Linked DNA regions of Homo sapiens. The protein of the gene in region 1 interacts with the protein of each later gene in a pairwise test. Each region holds a gene or a part of one and is shown in the gene's direction. Other genes may lie near its edges.

What was found. Proteins that work in one complex are often made in the same cells at the same time.
Region 2: the proteins of ENPP4 (region 1) and TMBIM6 interact in binary tests that used the Homo sapiens proteins (3 or more experiments, as listed by UniProt).

What each region holds. Positions count from the first base shown.
Region 1 is NC_000006.12:46,136,489-46,139,988, forward strand, and holds part of ENPP4 (bis(5'-adenosyl)-triphosphatase ENPP4 precursor), read left to right. Parts: intron 1-3,062; 5' UTR 3,063-3,095; coding exon 3,096-3,500. UniProt on the Homo sapiens protein: Hydrolyzes extracellular Ap3A into AMP and ADP, and Ap4A into AMP and ATP. Ap3A and Ap4A are diadenosine polyphosphates thought to induce proliferation of vascular smooth muscle cells.
Region 2 is NC_000012.12:49,755,057-49,758,556, forward strand, and holds part of TMBIM6 (bax inhibitor 1), read left to right. Parts: intron 1-578; coding exon 579-699; intron 700-3,170; coding exon 3,171-3,219; intron 3,220-3,326; coding exon 3,327-3,424; intron 3,425-3,500. UniProt on the Homo sapiens protein: Endoplasmic reticulum (ER)-resident protein that confers cellular protection as an anti-apoptotic protein by limiting multiple stress-inducing pathways surrounding the endoplasmic reticulum and mitochondria.

The sequences.
Region 1 (3,500 bases):
TTGTTGTAATACATTTCAGAAAGACCATGGCAATGAAGTATGGTGAATGGAAATTCAAGTTGGCAGTTATTTCTGTATTTATTTCACAGTAATTTGCATGCAAGTTGGACCTGGATATTGGAGGGGCTTCAATGTGAGACTGAGGCATTTGGGCTTTTTGTATAGGCAGGGGGGCCTTTTGAATATATTTTAAATTAAGGGAACATGAACAGAGCTGTGCCCAGAGAGACTGAGTAGGCAGCAGGTGTGAGGTAAGAAAGTGGAAGGTGGTTGAGGTAGAAAGGTGAATTAAGAGACAAAAGTGCTCTGGACAAGAGGTATTGAGGACTAAAAAATATAGCAGTAGTAGAGATGGATGAGTGGGTAGCTGTTAAAAATGCTTGTTTCAAATGCAGGTTTCTGGCCTCTACTGTGGACTGACTGAATCAGAATCTCCTAGTTATAGTGACTTGACAGCTGCACTTTTAACAAGCTCCCTTCAGTGATTCTTTTGTCTGATATGCTGTATTAGATGATACGAAGATAGAATTGACTAGACTGGCAACTGATCATATACTCAGGGGATCTCTTTGTTACTGAGAGAATGGCGAAGCTGTTTTAAAGGGTTGGGAACTAAGGAAGGGGGAAAAGATTTGGAGGTATAGAGAATGCATTCCATCTGACACATATCAGATTGGATTTGGCAGCAGAACAGCTGTGCAGTGGGATAGGATTGGTTGGGAATATAAAATAGTTACACAGGGAAAGAGCCAGAGCAGTAAATAGTGTTTTTCAAAAATTAAGTTTATGAGTATGTTTTCCCTGTGAGAAGATACTGTGCCGCCGTATTTGCTGATTTAAAAGTCTACTCTGTGATTGGAAAGAAATATTTGGATATGGGGAACTATACCCAGAGAGAAACCAGGGAATCTACTCAATCCAAGCTTTCATGGAGACCTGCATGCCCTTGACACAAGTTCTAAAATTGTAGCAACCCACATGATACTGTCATCTGATTGAACCCAGTTAAAACTCTCTGAGGGAGGAGTTAAGTCATACATAAACACTGTGTTGAGGGCATAAAATATTGAATGAACGGGTAAGTACCATTGTCTAGATTCTTGATAGCTGAAATTGCTGTGCTATGACTAGGGCTGTGTCTGTGGAAATACCCATATGCCTCCTCTACCACTCATTAGGTTTGTTACTCTGTCTTTTGGAGAGGTGGTTTTGTTACTCTGCATTAGTTTTGGTTATTAGGGAGCACCAGGAACAAATGTTCCATGCACCACATTCAGAAGGCAACCTGTCTCCGATTAAAATAGTAGAGATTTTGTAGACCCCAAGATCCTCATAAATCAGATTCTGTGCCTTTGGTCTTCCTAATTTTAAGTCAGTTTTTCAGAGGATCACAGCCTCTGTCAGTATTTGACCACAAGTACGCAGATCCTCCAGGTGGCATGTTTGAAAGAAAGAGAGAAAGTGTTTCCAGTCTACTTGAGAGAATACACAATAAATGACTCCTGAACTTCATAATCATATTAGTTAACTTGCTGCTCTTCATACCTGGGACCTCAACATGCATACCCGTTACCATGTTCAGGGTCTTCTTAGTCTGAAATAATGCATTCACTTGTTGCATTCTAACTGCAATCCCAGATCTTTGTAACTTTCACTAAAAGTTACTCTTAACTAATCTTCATTAGTTCTTTGACTTCACCAGAACCTCTAGTTGAAAAACTTCTCTACTTCTTACTTACATCTGTCAGTTTCAGCTTAGATGCTGCAGCCCCAATTTCAGCTGCTCTTTAGTTAGCATCTTCAGCTTCCTTTGTCTTCCTTCAGTTTCTGGCAGAATCTCAAATCCAGGTAGGATCAGCTGCCTGTTTTGTTCATGCCTGTGCCAGGTTTACTGAGTTGCTAGAGAAAACCAGTCAACTGTGTCACTATGAAAATTCATGACAGCTGTCAACATTGACTCCAGTTCTACTGTTTACTCACACTTTCTCCCATCTTCCACATTAACTATTTCAGACATTCTTTCTGTTCCTCAAACCTCTGAACCTTTTACCATTCTACTCCCTGTCAATAATTGACCCTACCTCCGGCAACTCTCTTCACCTCCAGCCCTCAAATCTGTCAGCTCCCCTACCTTTGCTCCTTCTCTCCTGTTACAATGGAAGAGGCATCCTGTCCATCTGAAGTGAATCATTTTACCTCACTCACATGTCCTATTTTCTTAGAGACCAAAGAAGATAGAGAGCAAAGGCAGGGAGATTTATTAGGGAAAAGCTGTTTTTGTCATCAGTGAATTGATTTAAAGAAAGAACAAAAAATCAGAGATAGCTTTAAGCCTAGGGTATTAGTGAAAATAGTTGTTGATAGCTAAAAGGAAGTTTAAGAGGGATGTGGTAATAAAACTCATTTCAATAGCTATTGGATTTCTTCATAAGTTACTGGAGCATCCATGTCCATGTAGGCTTTGCATGTTTGTTAATCAACTTCATGTGACTATTGGGGCACATACAGACTGATGGGGGCTTTTTTCTCAATAGCATTTATTTCTTATTCCCCCTTTTTTATAGCAATATTTTCAACAAGAACTGGCAATAAACCAATATGGTAGAATTTCCACCAATTATTTCTGTGGGTTAAAGAAACTATAAAGTACAATTTATTAAACTGGAAAAATAATCATCATCTCTGGAGCCTCTGAAAGCTTGGCATTAACGTTATGTTTTACAAAAGAATCATTTTAGTGTCTGCATCTATTTTTATTAAGCCTTTCGAAGAATTTCTAATGTGGCAAATGAGCTGACAGCCTAGAAGGAGTATTGATGTGGAGTATAAAAATGGCCCATATGAAGGATAGAGTAGGGCATATATATAAATAGGAAATTGGACAAGACAATTTTTTTTCCAATTTTAGCTTTTAGTTATTTTTAAATAAATGGTATTATTTAAGTTAATATAGGTAAAGCTGGCATATAAATGTTGGTTCTCTCCTCCTGTGGGCTAAAATTCTAAAACTTAACCCAAATGAAATAGAATTACTACTTATGAGTTGTGTTTTTACATTTTAGGAACCCTGATTGCTGTCCTTCAACGTGTTCATTATGAAGTTATTAGTAATACTTTTGTTTTCTGGACTTATAACTGGTTTTAGAAGTGACTCTTCCTCTAGTTTGCCACCTAAGTTACTACTAGTATCCTTTGATGGCTTCAGAGCTGATTATCTGAAGAACTATGAATTTCCTCATCTCCAGAATTTTATCAAAGAAGGTGTTTTGGTAGAGCATGTTAAAAATGTTTTTATCACAAAAACATTTCCAAACCACTACAGTATTGTGACAGGCTTGTATGAAGAAAGCCATGGCATTGTGGCTAATTCCATGTATGATGCAGTCACAAAGAAACACTTTTCTGACTCTAATGACAAGGATCCTTTTTGGTGGAATGAGGCAGTACCTATTTGGGTGACCAATCAGCTTCAGGAAAACAGATCAAGTGCTGCTGCTATG
Region 2 (3,500 bases), on another chromosome or scaffold:
AAGCAATTCTCTTGCCTCAGCCTCCTGAGTAGCTGGGATTACAGGCGTGTGCCACCATGCCTGGCTAATTTTGTATTTTTAGTAGAGACGGGGTTTCTCCATGTTGGTCAGGCTGGTCTCGAACTCCTGATCTCAGGTGATTTGCCCACCTCGGCCTCCCAAAGTGCTGGGATTACAGGCGTGAGCCACCATGTTTTTTTTAAAGTGACCAAAGGGGGATCATTTCTATTTGTTCTACAGATGGAATGTACTTTAAGCACTTGTCACGTTTCATTCATCCTTTCTATTTTTTGGGCAAGACTCACTCATAGTTTGACTTGGGTAGTTGTACTGTAGTTGAAGGACTACGCAAGCCAGAAGAGCCTCCAGCATCCACCATGGTCCTAACTCTGTGCTTCAAGGCTTCTGGGTTATCTCCTCAGCCCCATCCCTGAGAAAACACTACTTTTTCTCCTGCCTCCAGGTTATAAGCAAATGTTAGGAAGTTCAGACGAGTGTTTGAACCCAATAAAGGTCTCTTGCAAAATAAATTTGAAACTTTCAAGTGTTTAATGATTGATTGATTCTGACTCTAACAGGCTGGCCTGCTGTCTGCCTTGGGCTCCCTGATATTGATGATTTGGCTGATGGCAACACCTCATAGCCATGAAACTGAACAGAAAAGACTGGGACTTCTTGCTGGATTTGCATTCCTTACAGGTACGTTAAGGGATTTGTCTAATTTTGAGGGGTGAGCTATATTTTCAGTATCTCTTAATTAGTTCCCCCCCCTTTTTTTTTCTTTTTTTTTTTTTTGAGACAGAGTCTCGCTCTGTTGCCCAGGCCAGAGTGCAGTGGCTTGATCTTGGCTCACTGCAAGCTCCGCCTCCCAGGTTCACACCATTCTTCTGCTTTAGCCTCCCGTGTAGGTGGGACCACAGGCACCTGCCACCACACCCGGCTAATATTTTGCATTTTTAGTAGAGACGGGGTTTCATCGTGTTAGCCAGGATGGTCTTGATCTCCTGACCTCATGATCCGCCCGTCTCGGCCTCCTAAAATGCTAGGATTACAGGCATGAGCCACCGTGCCTGGCCCTTTTTTTCCTTTTTTTTTGAGACAGTGTCTCCGTCTGTCACCCAGGCTAGAGAGTGCAGTGGCGTGATCTTGGCTCACTGCAAACTCTGCCTTCCGGGTTCAAGCGATTCTCCTGCCTCAGCCTCCCAAATAGCTGGGATTACAGGCATGTGCCACCATGCCCGGCTAATTTTTGTATTTTTAGTAGAGATGGGGTTTTACCATGTTGGCCAGGATGGTGTTGATCTCTTGACCTAGTGATCCACCCACCTTAGCCTCCCAAAGTGTTAGGATGACAGGCGTGAGCCATAGTACCCTGCCTCCTGGCTTTTTTTTTTTTTTTTTTTTTTAAGATGGAGTCTCACCCTGTGGCCAGGCTGGAGTGCAGTGGCGAGATCTCAGCTCATTGCAATCTCTGCCTCCCAGGTTCAAGCGATTCCCCTTCCTCAGCCTCCCAAGTAGCTGGGACTACAGCGGCTAATTTTTTGTATTTTAGTAGAGACGGGGTTTCACCATGTTGGCCAGGATGGTCTTGATCTCCTGACCTCGTGATCTGCTCGCCTCAGCCTCCCAAAATGCTGGGATTACAGGCATGAGCCACCACACCCAGCGCTTTTTTTTGTTTTTTTGTTTTTTTTTTTGAGACTGAGTTTCACTCTTGTTGCCCAGGCTGGAGTGCAGTGGCACGATCTTGGCTCACTGCAGCCTCCACCTCCCAGGTTCAAGCGATTCTCCTGCCTCAGCCTCCCGAATAGCTGGGATTATAGGCATCAACCACCACGCCAGCTAATCTTTTGTATTTTTAGTAGAGATGGGCCACTATGTTGGCCAGGCTGGTCTCGAACTCCTGACCTCGTGATCCGCCCACCTCGGCCTCCCAAAGTGCTGGGATTACAGGCATGAGCCACTGCCCCTGGCCCTAATTTTGTATTTTAGTAGAGACGGGGTTTCACCATGTTGGTCAGACTGGTCTCGAACTCCTGACCTCAGGTAATCTACCTGCCTCAGCCTCCCAAAGTGCTGGGATTACAGACGTGAGCCACTGTGCCTGGCCTTCCTGGCCTGCTTTCTAATCTCATATAGGTTCATTTTGTTTCCCCATCCATTAGGGGAAACTCTGTGAGTAGCCACTGTGACTCTACTTTTGTGTCCAAAAATAGCCATTGTGTACTTGAATGAATGAGGTTCAAGAGCTTAGGTAGCATAACCTATTAATAGTAGGCATAGAACTTTTAATAAACTAGACTTGAGAATCCGACATAGTTGCACCCATACTGGCAATTATCATAGGAGCTTCTGTTCTGAGTCTTACAGACAGTGCATTAAAGCTATACATTGAGATCTATTGTGCAGGACACTTTGCTGATTCTCAAAAAAAGAAAGGCACAGCTCTTCTAGAATTGTCATAAAGGAAACAAGACTCAAGCTATGTAATAAAAATGTTTGCAAAACATTTGAATTAGAACAGCTTGTTCTGAGTGACAGTCTAATATACGTAGGAGAAATTTTAGAAAGGAAGAGATTTAGGGATTAAAATTTTTGCATCAGGGCAAGCTAGTTTTTGAAGGCATTAAGGGGTGGAATTATCAGAAGGAAAGAGGAAAGTAATTAGAACGAAAGAAATGTTAGAGCTGGAACAGGTTGCCCTCCTGTTGGCAGGTGTCCACCTGCAGAACCAGTCTCACCTTTCTTTGCTACAAAGGGGAGTCAGTCCTACATGACTATAAGGTTGCTGGCCACGAGGCACTGTTTTGCTCTTTATCCTTTTTTTCTAATTCCTGATCTGGCCTATATTACCATCTTACATCACTCTAGCTCTGAAATGTTTGGCATGCCTACTTTATTTTCTTGTAATCTCTGTACCCTCCCTGAGGTCATCCATGATTTTCAGCTAAGAGGACAATTTTGCAGCTATTTCTATAAAAAAAAAAAAAACAACGCAGTCAGGTATACATTTTATTGAAAACAATTACAGCGGAGGGGAGAGAGATTTAATTCTTTAGTCCACGTTTGTTAAGAGCATGAGTATGCCTATATTTCGGGATCAGCTTTTGGATGAGGATCCTATTCAAGAATTGATCGTAATACTGTGTTCTGGGTTTTCTGTTTTCTAGGAGTTGGCCTGGGCCCTGCCCTGGAGTTTTGTATTGCTGTCAACCCCAGGTAACTCTTTTGGTAGTGTCTTATGTGCTTTTATCTTTATGAATATACCTTCTAAATGTAGACCGTATACCTGTAGCCCTTAATCTAATGGTCTTTTTTTCTAACAGCATCCTTCCCACTGCTTTCATGGGCACGGCAATGATCTTTACCTGCTTCACCCTCAGTGCACTCTATGCCAGGCGCCGTAGCTACCTCTTTCTGGGAGGTAAGTGTGAACTGGGAAACAGGGAATGGGGGCTCCTTTTTAGCCAGAATTCTCACTAGTACTCCTTCCTTACCCC